Regions from separate parts of the Homo sapiens genome. Here region 1 is linked to region 2. The links come from fine-mapping of genetic effects on gene expression. Tissue or cell type: whole blood. Region 2 holds a variant in brackets; the other region holds the start of a gene. All regions are shown on one strand. Distances are from middle to middle.

Region 1 (8,312 bases), 92 kb before region 2:
ATGAGGACTGATGATCTGGGCTGAAAGAGCAGCAGAGGGAAGATTAGAAGGTCCACATGAGCAGAGTGGAGGGAGGGTAGGTTTCCTGCAGACACTGAGGATACATACCTTTGCATTGATCAGGAAGGACCTTGAATGTCAGGAAAAAGATCTAGGACCTGAAGTGAAAAGCAATGGTCAGAATGATCAAATGGAAGCCACGTTTTAGGGAAATCATTGCTCTCTTCTTCCCATGCTGTAGCGTGTGTATGTCCCCCAACTGGAGAATGTAATTAGAGTCCAATGCCACCTAACATCACTCCTTTACTGTCTCATGAGTGCATATTTTTACCTTCCCAAAAGAGAATGATGCATTCCTCAAGGGTAAGAACCAAGGTTGATTGTTACTTCATTTTGTTTTGTTTGAGACAGGTTCTCACTCTGTCACCAGGCTAAAGTGCAGTGGTGTAATCGTTGTTCACTGCAGCCTTGACCTCCTGGGCTCAATCGATGCTCCTATGTCAGTCTCCTGAGAAGTTGGGACCAGAGGCACGTGCTACCCAGCCTGGCTAATAAAAAAAGAGGAGTAGAGAAGGGGGGTCTCACTGTGTTGCCCAGGCTGGTCTTGAACTCCTGAGCTCAAGCCATCCACCCACCTTAGCCCCCAGAAATGTTGGGATTACAGGTGTGAGCCACCATGCCCAGCCTGATGTTTATTTTGAACATTGTGTGACTTTCAGGACAGTATTAGGCACAGGGTAGGCAATCAATGCTTACTTTAAAAAAATAAATTGTATGGAATCCTGGTTTCCTCTTCTTTCATTTTCTTCATAAGGAAAATGAATAGAGAATCCTAATTTCTAATAGGTGTCCCCCAGGGGCAAAAGTGTAAATCAGTTTGCCTTCTGTCACCTTCCCTTCCCTTTCCTATACTTTTCCTCTTTCTTCCTGGGTTCTTAACCACCAACATTTTGCTGCTGGAACTCTTAAGTCCCTGACTTGTATGTCTGGAACTCAAATTTCTCCCTTTTTCCTTTCCTCATTCATTTTCCTTAGGGCCTTGGGGAGATCATTGATGTCCCTTTCTTTCACCGAGTGAGTTCCTGGGCCAAACTATAACTGATCATCTACTTTAACAATCTGGCTGTCTTTGACACAGCTCTGCAACTTGCCTGAAAACTGTCCTGCTGAGTTCAAATGGTCACAGAAATAAGAAAGATATCGATTAAAGAAGTTTAGAAGGAGCCAGGAGTTGCTACATGAGTGACAGGCTGTTTGACTATTCTGTGAATAAAAAATAGTTTATACCCAACTGTGAGTTGGGAGAGGGTAGACTATGTTTGGTTAGAGCCTTTTTTTGGCTAAGAAAAAAAAAAATAACTTTTCAGGTTCCAGGAAATTTACAAAGCCTGACTTTTTCTCTCTCTTTTTCTCTCTCTCTCTCATTTGTCGTCTTGACTCTAAACTGATAATTTCAAAATTACTTCAAGAAGAAACAAAGAGTAGGCCAGGCGTGGTGGCTCACGCCTGTAATCCCAGCACTTTGGGAGGCCGAGGCAGGATCACTTGAGGTCAGGAATTCAAGACCAGCTTGACCAACATGGTGAAACCTTGTCTCTACTAAAAATTCAAAAATTAGCCAGATGTGGTTGTGCACATCTGTAATCCCAGCTACTTGGGAGGATGAGTCAGAAGAATCGCTTGAACGCAGGAGGCCAGGAGGTGGAGGTTTCAGTGAGACAAGATTGCACCACTGCACTCCAGCCTGGGCGACACAGTAAGACTCCATCTCAAAAAATAAATAAATAAATAAATAAAAAGAAAGAAAAGAAACAAAGAGTAACTTTCTCTTCCCTGGATTATTCTTTAGTTAACGTTTTAGAGCTTTAACCATCTGAGAAAGCCAGTTCCGTACTGTGAAATATGGCAGAAAACCCTTCAAAAACTTCACGTACAAATACTTCAAGGATCCTAGGTCCTTGAACAAGGTTCTTTGTAAAGTGAGAGTAAAAATCAGAGTCAGATAAGCTGCAACAGATAAGAGTGAAGTTTTGTTTGTAAAGGGTGATAACTCTGAATAAATATTTACATTTCTTCTTTTCTCTCTTATATTGGTTATAATGTAGAACTGGAGCCTGGTTGCTACTTCTGCTGTTATTTTGTGTTTAACAGAGAAAAGATCAAGTAATGGGCTCTAAAGGAAGTCTCTGCTTTTTTTTCCCATGACTCCAGTTTGGACTAAGACTAACCATGTGCTCAGTGCAAACCAAACTGCAGGCCCATTGTGTTAAATAAATCATCTTTCTTGGTAGAGTTGCTCTTGCCAACCCACACCACGCGGTAACCATGCTCCATGCTTTCCCTCCTTTGTAGCAAGGCTGGAGGTGATCCCAGTTCCCAGTCCCAGGGCTAACTCCACCCCACTTACTCCTCTCAAGAAAGCGCATCTTGTGTTTTTCAAATTACACAACCCCCAGCAATTCTGATCTTCCTGCACAGGGAGTGAATGCCACTTCCAATATCCCCTGACCCCCAGGAATCACTGTTTTAAACTAATGATCAATATCATCCTTAAGGATTCTTGCAGGTTAAAAAGCGATGCTTGGAGAGGTAACCAGTAGGATGAGGCTTCCATGGCAGAGATTAGGTGAAACAAGAAAGACACCTCTTCATTCTTACCTTCCAAGACTGTTGGCTGTTTTAGTGCCCAGTGAGCATTATTGTCTGTCTTACAAGATGACCTCTATGTAAGTATTCTGGTAACAGGTTAGCTATCCTCTTAATGAACTGCGTGTGTGTGTGTGTGTGTTGTATCATATTACTGGATGACTGAACAACCATGCATACAGTGTATGAGTGTGTGTTTGTGTGTGTATGTGTACTTATTCAAGACTGTTTAAAAAGGAGAGAGGAGCATAAATCTCTCTTATTCTGCAGGCACGCTTATATACCGTGTTGAAAGAAGAGAGCCTGGGCTTTTGAATAAGACTGAGATGTTTAAAATTTTTAAAAAAATTTTTTGAGGTAACTGTAAATTCGCTTGAAGTTGTAAGGAATAATAGAGAGATTCCCTATAGACGCTTCACTTAATTTTTCTCAATGGTAACATTTTGCATAACTGTAGAACAATATTACAATCAGTAAATGGACATTAGTGTAGTCCAAATGTCTTATTCAAATTTCATGAGTTTCACGTGCTCTCATTTGTGAGTGTATATTCAGTTCTATGCAATTTTGCCACATATGTGATCTGCTTTTGAATCTCAGTTCTGTGGAGTTCCTGCTGTGTGATCCTGAGGAAGCTCTTTGACTTCTGGGAGATCCATTTTCCTCATCTGCAAAATAATGTCTGCCTCCTAAGAGTGATGTGAGAATTAGATAAGATAATTTCTGTCGAGTTTCTAGCGCACTGGATTCTCAAGGAATGCTGGTTTCCTCTTGTCTGTTGCTTGCTTTCTCGGTAGAAAAGGAATCACCAGTTTCCTGCTAAAATAACCAGACTTGTGGGTTGTAATCCATCAGGCGGATCCTTCAAGGGCAACACATTTAACCCTGCAGCTCAAAAAGAACCATGGCCTGGACTTGGGATCCTATTTGACTGCAATGAGATCAGAAGTGTAGGGATGGGGGAGTGAGAACGCAGACTCTGGGGTAGTAGGTAGGAGGCGATTAATATCGAGCAACTGTTGGGCTGGGAACCACCAACTCCAAGGAGTTTTCGTCCTGTGTGGCTTGCGACCGAGGGTTAGCTTCACCCGGAGAAGGCTGCACAGGGGCGGGAGCCTGTGAGGACGTGGTGGGCAGGTGCGGAAGCCAGTGTAGACCCGGCAGGAGGGTCGCGCTCGCTCTACAGGGTTCCGAGTCACTTCTACAGCCCTTCTGCCTCCTGAACACCCTTTCCAATGTTGATGGCCAATCGACACCCGAGGGCTGGGAAATCACCCCCTTAAAGTCCCGCTTGCTGAAGGCGGGGGCCCTTCCTCTGCGCGAAGACGCTGCGGCCCGAGTGTCCGCGGTGCGGGTGAGTGTAGGCGTGTTGGGAAAGAAAGGGAGGCGGACAGGCAAGGGGCGAGGGTGGCAGCGCCAGCCCCAGCTCGGTGGCGACCTCGGGGCGCCAGCCTCCTACACCCGCACCCGGAGCCCCGGCGTTTCTAACTTCAGATCTCGGAGGCGGGCGCTCGGAGCGGGAGGGCGCGTCTGCGAGGGCTCAGGCGGCGCCGCCCGCTCCTCCCTCCGCTGCCTGAGCCGCGCGGGCCGCAGAGGAGGAGCCGCGCCGGGGCCGGCGTCGCCCTGACTCCTCCTCCCCGCGCGGGCCCGGCCCTTCCTCCCCGGCGTCCAGAGCTCCGGGTGGCCGCGGCCGAGCCGGGAGCCGAGCGCGCTGGGCGCGGCCGTCCCGCTGCCGCCGCCAAGCCCGGAGTGCGCCAGCGGCCATGGTTCCCGCGGCGGCGCCGGGCGCCTGAGCCCCGGGACGCAGTAAGTGGCGCAACCCCGGGGACCCGGACCCACGGCCTGGGGGTGCACGGAGGCCTCGCGCTGCCCCCGCGCCGTCGGCGAGGCCCTGAGAGCCCGGAGCGAACTGGGCACCGGATCACTCGGGGGCTTCCCATTTGGGGTCCGGGGCCAGCGGGGCGCAATCCCTGCGGGCCGGGAGGAAGCAGCGGCCGGGCGGGAGGACGAGGCGGGGACGGGGCTGCTTCGGAGGCGGGAGGAGGGGCCGGTCCCGGAGGCGCGGGCTGCGCGGGCGGGGGCGGGCCGGCGGGGGCGGGGAGGATGCGCGCTGCAGCCCGCGGCCCCCGAGAGCCGCGCTTTTGTAAGAGCTGGCCCCTTACATATGGAAATGACGCTCACGCGGGTCCCCATTCGCGTCCTTTTGAAGGACGCCCGCCCGGAACCGCTGCGCCGGCTGCGAAGTATTGTCCCGTTTCTCCAGCCCTAACAAAGCGTCCTCCTTCGCTTTGCAGAGCGCTGGAGGCGGGCTGCCGGCTGTGCGGGCGCTCCGGAGAGACCGACAGAAGGTAGGCGAGGGCGGCGGGGCCGGGGGAGCGCGCTGCCTGCCCACACAATGGGCTGTCTGAGGTTTCTGGTAGTGGCGATGGGCAGGCGAGTTGAGGACGCATCGCAGGTGGCCAGGGACTTGGGAGGCGCGCTTGTCCTGCGGCCGCACCTCCGCTTCCCCGCGCGGCAGCACCGCTGGGTTTGGGCACTTCCAGTACCCCCGACGCCCCGGCCGCCTGCCCGGAGCTGAAAGCCGCTTCTGTGCTTTGACCGAGAGCAGGCTTGAGTCCCCGAGGGAGCAGAAGGGGTGGTGGTTCCGTTGGCATGTGCCGCCCGTACAGCCTTGTGATTGAGACGCTGCAGAGGAAACTGCATGGGGAAATCCGAGGTGTTAGCCTGGGCTGTCTGAGTAGCGGAGAGCTGCTTGGAGCCCGGAAAGTGGAGATTTTTGGAGGTGTGCGGGGTCGATGCGCGTAAACAGTTTCCCAGTATAATGCCCAGGAGAAGGGGAAAGAACAAAATGACATTTGGTTATTGCCTAAAAGGTGTGGCATGGAGGTATGGAGTGTCGGGGAAGGAAGCTTCCAGCGGCTAGGCTTCTGTAGCTACCGAAGCGGCCCCTGACAGAAGGACACTAGGTGATGGGAACAGTCACTGCTTCCAGCTCTCGCTGCGAAGTTAAAAGAGATAGAGACGGAAAGAGGCAATTTCCCTAACCCCAGCCCTGACAACCCGAGGTGAAGGCACCAACAAAATGGGAGCTGGAAAGACTGCCCTACCATATATCATGTTTCCAGACAACTTGGATATTATGAGATCTGCTTTCTGCTCCTAACTAGGACAGATCCTCTCCTGGTGTTGAGGACTTCTAAGATGGGCTTGCCATACAGCTCAACTCCTGAATTTATTACATCGAAACAGATTGCGTAGTTGTCTTTTGTGACTGACATGGTAGCTTTGTAGGATGAGAATCCTGATAAAGTCCATCCTGACACATGAGGGAAGCCCCTGGAACCACGACGTTTCTCAGTTAGGTCCCCGTAAACACCATAACATACACACATGTTTGCATGATTCCGGAGGCTTGATGATCTAACAAGGAAAATTCCTTTTTTCTGTCAGTTTAATTTTACCTTGAGTCTTCTCTCGTGGTGAGCATATTATATAGGTGGCTGACCTGGAATATTGGTGGCTCTTGCTCCGGAGTTGAAGGGAGCTGAGGATTTCCAGAGTGTGTATAGGAGGAACATTACAGGCTGGCTGAAAAACGAGTTTGTGTGTTGTGGTCTCTTCAGCTATTGTCAGTGTCCTTTGGGAGGTGATGTGAACTGCCCGGGAATTTGTTTGCAGATTTGTTTATTTTCCCTGTTCTCTGGTGATTCTTTAGAGGGAAGCATTCTGCAGAGTGGGGAAAAGGTAGGATGAATGTTCCACAGGGTTGGACATCGGCAAAGTTATTACCAATACAGGGAAAGGCTTCACAGGGGGCAATAGAGAGGAAGCCATCATACAGTCTGCATTAAAATGTCAAGGATCAGTCATTTTAATAGGCACTTGCTCAGAATGGCGTGGGGTTCTTTTTTCTTATTTCTTTTTCATTTTAGATGTGTAATGACCCTTAATATCAAAAGATGTTAACTGTCACAGAGGGGGAGAATAGGGCTCCAGTGAATTCTGAACAGCCAATCTTAATGTAATAGGCAGTATTCTTATCATGAGTCAAATGTTCAAATAAATTGTTTTAAATGTCACTGCAAATGACTTTCTAAACTAACATTTCAACTATCTTGATGCTTCCATTTTATGTTGATAATGAAAATGCATTTTATCAGTCTTACATTGATAAAGGGTGGGCAAGCTTAGCCAGAGCATTTTAGAAGGATTTAAACAGCGTGAAGCCTTTTTAGAAGGCTTATTTTTATAGATGCCAATTCATTTGTAAGCCAATAAATTATCTGGTTTGAATTCTAGCTATTGAACTTGCATCTGTTGGGCAGGGGCTTATGGAGAGACTTAGTGAAGCTTGCAAAAAGATTTTTATCCTATTTATGAATAAAATAGAATTTTGAAAAGATTATGAGATTCTGAAAGTGAGCATCCTTGTTTGAAATTAGGACACTTCTTTATTGCAATTTAAGTCAGCAATTAACCATTTATTCAAGCTTTTGGATGGAAAAATTACAAAGCATCTATCTATACCCTAATTCTCACTTTAAAAACAAAGTTGGGAAAATATTGTTCATAGACGTGAGAAGAGAAGATCACCTTCACTTACACCTCAGGGTACCATACTCATAGCCTCAGGCATCCTAAATTAATGTGAGTCAATATGGCTTAAGAAGTGGAAGTTGTTATAAGCTTTCTCCTTTTTTTTTTTTTTTGTAACAAACATGCAGCTCTGTTTTCTGCTTCTGTAATTTACTTAGTAGTTGATTACAGGTTACTGAATGCACATTGTGCCAGGCTAATGGCGTTTTTTTGTTGTTGTGTTTTTTGTTTTTTGTTTTTTTTTTCCTGTAGCTAACCTGAGTTAACTACTTGATTGGGTAATCTACCAGTTATTAGGTTGAACAAAAGCATGGGTTTATTACATCCTTCAGGATAGTAAAATAATAAAGGTTGCTTACATTTTCGAATAAACGCTGATAGGATTCCCTTAGTTAAATATTATAGTGTAGTTGACAAAGGTTGTTATTTTTCTTTTTCTTTCTTTTTTTTTTTTTTTTTGATACGGAGTCTCTCGCTCTCTCCTGGGCTGGAGTGCAATGGCATGATCTCGGCACACTGCAACCTCTGCCTCCCAGGTTCAAGCAACACTTCTGCCTCAGCCTCCCGAGTAGCTGGGATTACAGGTGTGCGCCACCACACCTAGCTATTTTTTTTTTTTTTTTTGTATTTTTAGTAGAGACAGGGTTTCAACGTGTTAGCCAGGATGGCCCCGATCTCCTGACCTTGTGATCCACCTGCCTCAGCCTCCCAAAGTGCTATGATTACAGGCATGAGCCCCCGCTCCCAGCCATTTTTTCAAATGTATTTAATGTGACTTTCTTCCTGTGCATTTAAGCTTTCGTGTTATATTTTTGTATCATGATTTCATTCACAGTGATATTGTTGTGCTTTTGGTATCCAGCTAGAAGTGAGACACTGAGCAGAGAGGAGGCATTCTGACAGTAATCAGTTTGCTGCTAAGCAGCACTGGTTTTTGGCGGAAGTATTCTCCTATATAAACTCGTAAATGGCTGCAACTGCTTTTTCTATTGAGCTTTTACTAAACTTGAATTTATCCTTGTCACTCTTTCCTTTTATACTGAAAGTAGTCCAATATGGTGAGCCTGAAA
Region 2 (8,312 bases):
CTCCATCTCAAAAAAAGAAAAGTAAATATAGTATGACAAAATGATTTAAATAATATTTCAAACATTGCAGCAAAATAATTTAAATATTTCCATCAAAGTTTATTAATTATGAAGGCTTGAGAATAGTGCATAAAAATGACTGCTTGTTCCTAATTTATAGATAGGACTTCTAAGGCAGTTTATGCCCTATTTTGAAGATCTATATCAACATTCCCTTTATGAATTTAAATTTTTAAAATTGGAATTTATATGCGGTATTAGCGTAAAATAGGATTCTTCTTTAAGAGGTGAGGTCTTAGCCAGGCACGGTGACTCACGCCTGTAATCCCAGCACTTTGGGAGGCTGAGGCAGGCGGATCACGAGGTCAAGAGATCAAGACCATCCTGGCTAACACAGTGAAACCCCGTCTCTACTAAAAATACAAAAAAATTAGCCGAGCGCGGTGGCAAGTGCTTGTAGTCCCAGCTACTGGGGAGGCTGAGGCAGGAGAATGGCGTGAACCTGGGAGGCGGAGGTTGCAGTGAGCCGAGATCGTGCCACTGCACTCTAGCCTGGGCGACAGAGCAAGACTCTGTCTCCAGAAAAAAAAAAAAAAAAGGTGAGGTTTCTTTGTATCCCAGGCTGGATCACCACTTGCTGCCACCTCAAACTCCTGGGCTCAAAGGATTCTCCCACCTCAGCCTTCCAGGTAGTTGGGACTACAGGCACACGCCACCACACTCAGCTTTTTATTTTTGGTAGAGATGGGGGGTCTTGCCATCTTGCCTAGACTAGTTTGAAACTCCTGGGCTCAAGCGATCCTCCTGCCTTGGCTTCCTAAAGTACTGGGATTCCTGGTGTGGGCCACCATGCCTAGCCTAGAATAGGATTCTACAAGTATATATTTTTATTTGCAACTAAGAGGGTCCTTTACAGTCCAACATCATAGGCTAAAACAATTTCTACAAAATTCAGTGAAACCATCTTTTGTGATGCCAGTTGGCACCCATTGGTATTGTAAGATACCATTTAGTAATCTACCAGATGACTATCAGCAATACCTTGCTCCAGACATAGTTCATCATTGTCCTAAATATAATTTAACATCCTGTAAATATACCTACTGTCCTAGGTTTCCACTGAGCTACTGACAAGAAAGCTGGATTTAGTAAAGAGAAACAAACAGACTTGAAAGTTCTTTTGTCCTTATTCATTCCTGAACATGCTAGAGGTGAGACCACAAGAGTTTGTGTAGCAGTAAAAGATCATTCTCACAATACAGGTTCAGAATTTAGAAGACACCGTGCAGAATGTAAACCTGCAAATGTCCCGGATGAAATCTGACCTACGAGTGACTCAGCAGGAAAAGGAGGCTTTAAAACAAGAAGTGATGTCTTTACATAAGCAACTTCAGAATGCTGGTGGCAAGGTGATTTGTTCTTTTTTTATTTAGGTATAAGTTATTTACAGTAAAGTATACAAATCTTAGGACAACTTGGTTATTTTTATGTGTATATGTATGTACATATAAATATGCATATTTTATGTATCTGTGTTTGTATAACCATCACTTAGATAAAAATGTAGAACATTTCCAGCACTCAGCAGGCTCTCTCTTGTTCCCTCCAGTTGGTAACCCCAAGGGAACCACTTTTGTACCCTCTGCCACTGTAGTTTAGGGATGCTTTTTTCTAAATTTCATATAAATGAAACCATAGTGATATAAAACAGGTCTTTTTTTTGTATTGAGCAAGTCAGAAGACCATGGCTGAGTTGAGTTTTGTAATAACAAAACTAAAACATTTTCTTAAATGGTAGAGAAAAGTATTTGTGTGACCTTAAAAAAAATCAAATGTAGAAAAACATTGCAAGAAATTAATCTGGGAACTTATACACAGACTTGCAAAAAAGTACAGCTTCTGCTAAAAAGGCATAAAACAATAGTATTGAATTTCAGGAGATAATTCATTGCTACAAATAGGTTGCTATGGCACCAGAAAGTCCAGGAAGAGCTGATTAAAGTGTTAGCTGGCTGACACATTATGGTGGTGTGGTAGAAAGTGTCTCATTTTAATAAGTCACAGTGCTGCCTAATCTGTGTGCAAATAAATTAAGAACAATGTTATAGATGTCATTTTGGGGCAGATGTCAAGATTTTGTCCTACAATAAAAGTAGACACATTCAGTTATCTCTTGGTGAAACTTTTTATAAAAAAACTAGTTGTTTTGGGCTGGGTGTGGTGGCTCATGCCTGTAATCCCAGCGCTTTGGGAGGCCGAGGCAGGCAGACCACTTGAAGCCAGGAGTTCAAGACCAGCCTGGCCAACATGGCGAAACCCTGTCTCTACTACAAATACAAAAATGGCCAGGCATGGTGGCTCACGCTTGTAATCCCAGCACTTTGGGAGGCCTAGGCGGGCGGATCACGAGGTCAGGACTTCAAGACCAGCCTGCCCAACATGTTGAAACCCCATCTCTACTAAAAATAAAAAAAATTAGCTGGGCATGGTGGCGAGTGCCTGTAATCCCAGCTACTCGGGAGGCTAAGGCAGGAGAATCGCTTGAACCCGGGAGGGCTAGGTTGCAGTGAGCCAAGATCGTGCCACTGCACTCCAGCCTGGGCGACAGAGCTAGACTTTGTCTCAAAAAAAAAAAAAAGCCAGCTGTGGTAGTACATGCGCCCATAATCCCAGCTACTTGGAAGGCTGAGGCATAAGAATTGCTTGAGCCCGGGAGGTGGAGGTTGCAGTGAGCTGAGATCGTGCCACTGCACTTCAGCCTGGGTGACAGAGTGAGAGTCTGTCTCAAAAAAAAAAAAGTTTCCATTTTTAAAATTACTTCTGGGTTGACTTTTTCTGAAAATGAGATTGTACCTTTTTTTTTTTCATGTTTGGTTTAAAAGGTAAGAGGCTTATCTATTTGTGTTATCTTTTTAATTTTTTAAATCATTTTCAAGATCCAAAAAATCACTTTGGTAGCTGAAAGCACATTTCTGAATTCAGACGTTAATTACATGGACAATATGTGCTTTGGATTCTAAAAAAAGGATATGATTGCATATGTGAAAATGAAAGTAGAGTTTAGCCTATGAAAGCTTTTGAGTTGGCAGTGCATTTCAGCCTTCTCTTTATGTCCTCTGTGAATCAAATGAATATCTTCTGGGCTTAAAGATAACTTCGTAAGAATGAAGCAACTTTTAAGCCACCAGTCTCAATGCATTTGGGTCCTTTATGGAACTGGGCCTTGCCCTACAGTCATATTCATTATTGGACATGGCATGGCTGTTTTGTCAAAGACCATTTTAAACAGAGACTCTCCAAATCTTTTTGTTTAAATCAAACTTCAAGAATATTGTTTTATTCATATTTATATGTACATACACATACTTTCATTAGAAGACTGAGGGGACAATTGAAAGGTACTTATTAGGAGTCGTTGTCATTGGGTAAACATGACACCTGTCTCAAAACAGCAATTACCCAATAGCTTGTTTTTAAGGCTTACACTCTGCAATTCTCTTAAGAGCTGGGCCCCAGAGATAGCTACTCATCCATCAGGGCTCCATAACCAGCAGAAAAGGCTG[T/A]CCTGGGACAAGTTGGATCATCTGATGAATGAGGAACAGCAGCTGCTTTGGCAAGAGAATGAGAGGCTCCAGACCATGGTACAGAACACCAAAGCCGAACTCACGCACTCCCGGGAGAAGGTAATTGGAGAAGCTGCACATCATGGCATATGTTTGAAAATGACTAGTTTGATAGGAAAATGAATGTTGGATATGATTGGAATGGTTCTAAGGTATGGATTTGAGTATCCTGCTATAGCAGACTTATTTTAAGAATGTATCATTTATCATTTACTCACATATAATTTTATCCTGATGTTTATAAAATATTTTTATAAGCAGTTTTATATTAAAATATATTTGTGACTTTAATCTTCATATCCAAAATATAGACTCATGGAAATTATGTGAACCATATAGTCTTCAAATTGGCTGGCCACCAAGACTAGTAGTACAAAAATGGTAAAACTAGACTCAGATCTTGCAGGTCTAAATAACTCCTCACGAGAGAAAAAGGTGCCTCCTTTAAAAGACAGCATTTCAAGGTTTAAGGTCTTTTCCAACCACCAACTTGGTGCTTGAATTCCTTACCTCTGCTGCATAGTCTCCCAATGATATTTAACCTATGCTTAACACCCCTTTTGAGGAGGAACTCTGAAGAGTCGCAGATATTTAGTTAGAACACCTACTCCATGCCAGAAACTGCTATCACGGATGCTGCAGTGGTGAGCAAGACAGACATGGTTCATGTCTTCGTAGAACTGTTTTAGATGTGAATAGTCCAATAAGAGCAGATGGGAACTGTCAGCCCATTCTCTCCTAAAAGTAGTGTTCATGTCAGAAAAAAAGGGCCTGGGACCACTGTGCCTGTTTTCCTGGCAGCCACATCACATACACTGTTGACTCCTGGAGAGTTAGTAGACCCAGAAGTCCCCTCTTCCCAGTCTTGTTCCTACAGTCCTGGGTTTGCAGACCCAACCAGACTCACCTAGAAAGGGTCTTTTGAAATCCAGAAAAGCTAGCTTCAAGTATTTACAGGCTTGATTGAAAAAGGATGTTAAACAGGACCCAAGTACTGAATTAAAACTTTCCCTATGTTTGTTGTTTTTGCTGGCTGGGTGATTGTATTAGCATTTTTTCCTCTTACATTTGTTCCTGTTAGGTCCGTCAGTTGGAATCCAATCTTCTTCCCAAGCACCAAAAACATCTAAACCCATCAGGTACCATGAATCCCACAGAGCAAGAAAAATTGAGCTTAAAGAGAGAGTGTGATCAGTTTCAGAAAGAACAATCTCCTGCTAACAGGAAGGTGAGTTTTTGAGAATATATGGCGTACATCTGTGTTCTCACTATAATGCGTTCTTAAGTGTGTTTCTTCTCAGGTGTACTTCTAAGGAAATGATTACGATGGCATATTTTGGCATGTATCTCTTTATGCTGTTATCTTGTCAAAATAGCATCGTGGTTCTTTTTGATTGAATAATGGTTGAAAAAATAACAGTTTGGCCGGGTGTGGTGGCTCATGCCTGTAATCCCAGCACTTTGGGAGGCCGATGCAGGCAGATCACCAAGTCAGGAGTTTGAGACCAGCCTGACCAATACGGTAAAACTCCATCTCTACTAAAAAAACACAAAAATTAGCCAGGCATGGTGGCACATGCCTATAGTCCCAGCTACTTGGGAGGCTGAGGCAGGAGAATTGCTGGAACCCAGGAGGCGGAGGTTGCAGTGAGCTAAGATCACACAGTGTACTCCAGCCTGGGTAACAGAGTGAGACTCTGTTTAAAAAAAAAAAAAAAAAACAACAACAAAAAACCACAATTTAAGCTTCTTAAAGAAGGCAATTAATCATCTTTATTAGTATTAGAAGCCCTTATAAGTTGGCAAAATATTTATCACTCGAATATTAGAAACATCTTAATATGGGCTTTTTTTTTTTTTTTTTTTTTTTTTGCTATGTAACAAATTAAAACAACATTTCTTGTCTTATCTGCAAGTCAGGATTTCAGAAGCAGCTTAGCTGGGTGGTCCAACTCAGGGCTCTCATGAGGATGCAGTCTACATGTTGGCCAGGCCTGCAGTTACCCGAACGCTTCACTGGGGCTAGAGGATCTACTTTACAAGCTCATTTGTACAACTGTTAGCAAGAGGCTGCTGTTCCTTGCTGGCTGCTTGCCTGAGACCTCAGCTCTTCACTACCTGGGCCTTTTCTCAGGGTGTAGCATCTGGCTTCCCCCAGAAGGAGTGATGAAACAGACACTGAGACCGAAAGACCAAGACAGAAGCTGTGGTCCCTTTATGATCTAATCCTGCGAGTGACATACCAACATTTCTGCTGCACTGTATTTGTCACGCAGACTAACCCTAGTATAGTGTGGGAGAGGACTGTATAAGGGTGTGAATACCCGGAGGTGGGGCTCTTTGAGGCCTCTTGGAGGCTGGCTACCCCCTGGTCACACCTCTGCAGTGCCAATCAGTTTGCTTTCTGTAATTTGTCCCATGAAGTTAGAGTTCTAGACCAGACTTCTCAGAGTTGTTACTTTTCTTTTTCTAAACTGAAACTCAGTTTTCACTATTACCTCTTTATAAAAAATATGGTCTGTTTAGAAATCTGAGAAAAATATTTCATTATAAAATATTCATAAAATTTTTGTTTTTTGTGAAAGTTATCATGACCATTTGCAGTAAGAAGACCTGGTTGTGCTCTAAAGCTGAAATGTCATTTAATTTCAGGTACATTCAAGTAAACTTTGCAGAAAGAAAATGGGTTTCATTTAGCTGCTCATTAGGGGGAGAAAAGTCTGTGATAGGCTTTTAATAATACTGAAGTTTAAAATGGACCTGGAAGACTACACTTCTGTTTCACAATTCTTGCTGTTCTCCTCAGCTCTTTTTGATAGAAGCAAAATCAGCTTTCTAAGATAGTGTTGTATGTTTTTTACTGAGCAATATTCTGACTCGGTGTCCTCTAGCTCACTAGGTTCTTCCTGTAGTAAAGAGTTATAAAAGTGAGGCTGGACGCGGTGGCTCATGCCTGTAATCCCAGCACTTTGGGAGGCCGAGGTGGGCAGATCACGAGGTCAGGAGTTCGAGACCAGTCTCATCAACATGGTGAAATCCCATCTCTAAAAAAAAAAAATATACAAAAACTAGCTGGGTGCAGTGGTGCACACCTGTAGTCCCAGCTATTTGGGAAGCTGAGGCAGGTGAATCGCTTGAACCTGGGAAGCGCAGGTTGCAGTGAGCTGAGACTGTGCCACTGCACTCCAGCCTGGGTGACAGAGTGAGACTCTGTCTCAAAAAAAAAAGGTACTCACGAAATCTTTAAAATTAAAAAGTTATATAAATCAGGTTTTATGTACTCTCAATTTTAAGCCTTTAAGTTTGCATTAAGACAGTATTTTTCCTGCTGCAGATCCATAGTAGAGGATAATGAAATCAATTTAATGGAAACCAGCATTTTTTATTAATATACTACAAAATATCAGAGTACATGGTCCATGGTAAGGATATTTCAGTGATATGTACTGTACATATGTGTGGGTGTGTGTACTGCGTTGTAAGATAAAACGTATTTCTTACAGTGGGTGGCATCCAAGTTTAAAAGCCAGCTGCCTTAAGGAATCTATTCTGTGTGAGGACAGGTGATTAAAACTAGATTACTTAAATGTAAGCAATACACTGAATTGTATTATTTGTTTGTCACTGAATTAACTTGGCTTTCTTCCAAGAGTTGAGATTTCTGACAAGCACAGATTTGTCAAAATAAAGTAGAACAACTCAAGTGTTTTTGTTTCTGTTTCAAGGGAATATTTTGTTTTTTTTAAACAGGTCAGTCAGATGAATTCCCTTGAACAAGAATTAGAAACAATTCATTTGGAAAATGAAGGCCTGAAAAAGAAACAAGTAAAACTGGATGAGCAGCTCATGGAGGTAAGTTTCTCAGCAGATGGCCTTAGCTATGAAGAATATGTTAATCCATGAATGAGGTATTTGTTGGGAGAGACTAGACATGGCATTGAATTCCCGTTGTGAAAATCTAAGTACACTGCCAAGTTGAATTCTTTGGTCCGCCTTACCAAGTTTAACAGACAACTTTGCTTCATTATACTGCCATAGGAAGCCATACTGCTTTTCAGAGTAAGTAATAATGATGACCTAAAATGCAAAGACCTGTACCTCTGCAAATTCAGGGGGCAGGGACTCTCTGATTAGCCAAGGGGCCCTGAGCACTCTTGCCATCACCATGTTTATACCAGTTCACTGATCCCTCCTATATTGCAGCATTTTATAGACATGATTGATCTCTAGCACCCTCTTCAGTTGGGAAATCCATGCGGGAAATTTGAGAGCATTAACATTTGGAAGTTTTAATTTCAAGTGCTGCTATTCTTCATTACTACATTTAGAACTCAGGACTGCCTTGTGAGAGGTACATCTGATCACTATGAAAATGTATTTGTGGCCGGACATGGTGGCTTATACCTGTAATCCCAGCATTTTGGGAGGCTGAGGCAGTCAAATGGCTTGAGTCCAGAAGTTCAAGACCAGCCTGGGCAACATGGCGAAACCCTGTCTCTACAAAAAAAAAAAAAAATACAAAAATTAGCCAGGTGTGGTGGCACGTACCTGTAGTCCCAGCTACTTGAGAGGCTGAGACAGGATTGTTTAAGCACAGGAGTTGGAGGTAGCAATGAGCTGAGATCACACCACTGCACTCCAGCTTGGGAGACAGTGAGAGACCCTGTCTCAAAAAGAAAGAAAAAGAAA

The links. PIP is the estimated chance that this variant, and not a neighbour inherited with it, causes the effect.
Region 1: it holds the start of NIN, and the variant in region 2 is fine-mapped to the expression of NIN in whole blood (TOPMed, PIP 0.95).

What each region holds. Positions count from the first base shown.
Region 1 is chr14:50,827,146-50,835,457 of GRCh38, reverse strand. It overlaps NIN (ninein), which reads left to right and starts at 4,296. Exons shown (of 31, transcript NM_020921.4): 1 at 4,296-4,452; 2 at 4,941-4,994. RefSeq lists silencers at 3,955-4,404, 4,455-4,734, 4,805-4,854, 4,875-4,994 and an enhancer at 5,565-5,614.
Region 2 is chr14:50,734,679-50,742,990 of GRCh38, reverse strand. NIN (ninein) reads left to right here. Exons shown (of 31, transcript NM_020921.4): 25 at 1,263-1,409; 26 at 3,504-3,683; 27 at 4,705-4,851; 28 at 7,374-7,475. Among named protein-coding and RNA genes, the nearest start is that of SAV1, 71 kb to the right of the region's middle. The variant T/A (reference allele first, on the strand shown) is at 3,564.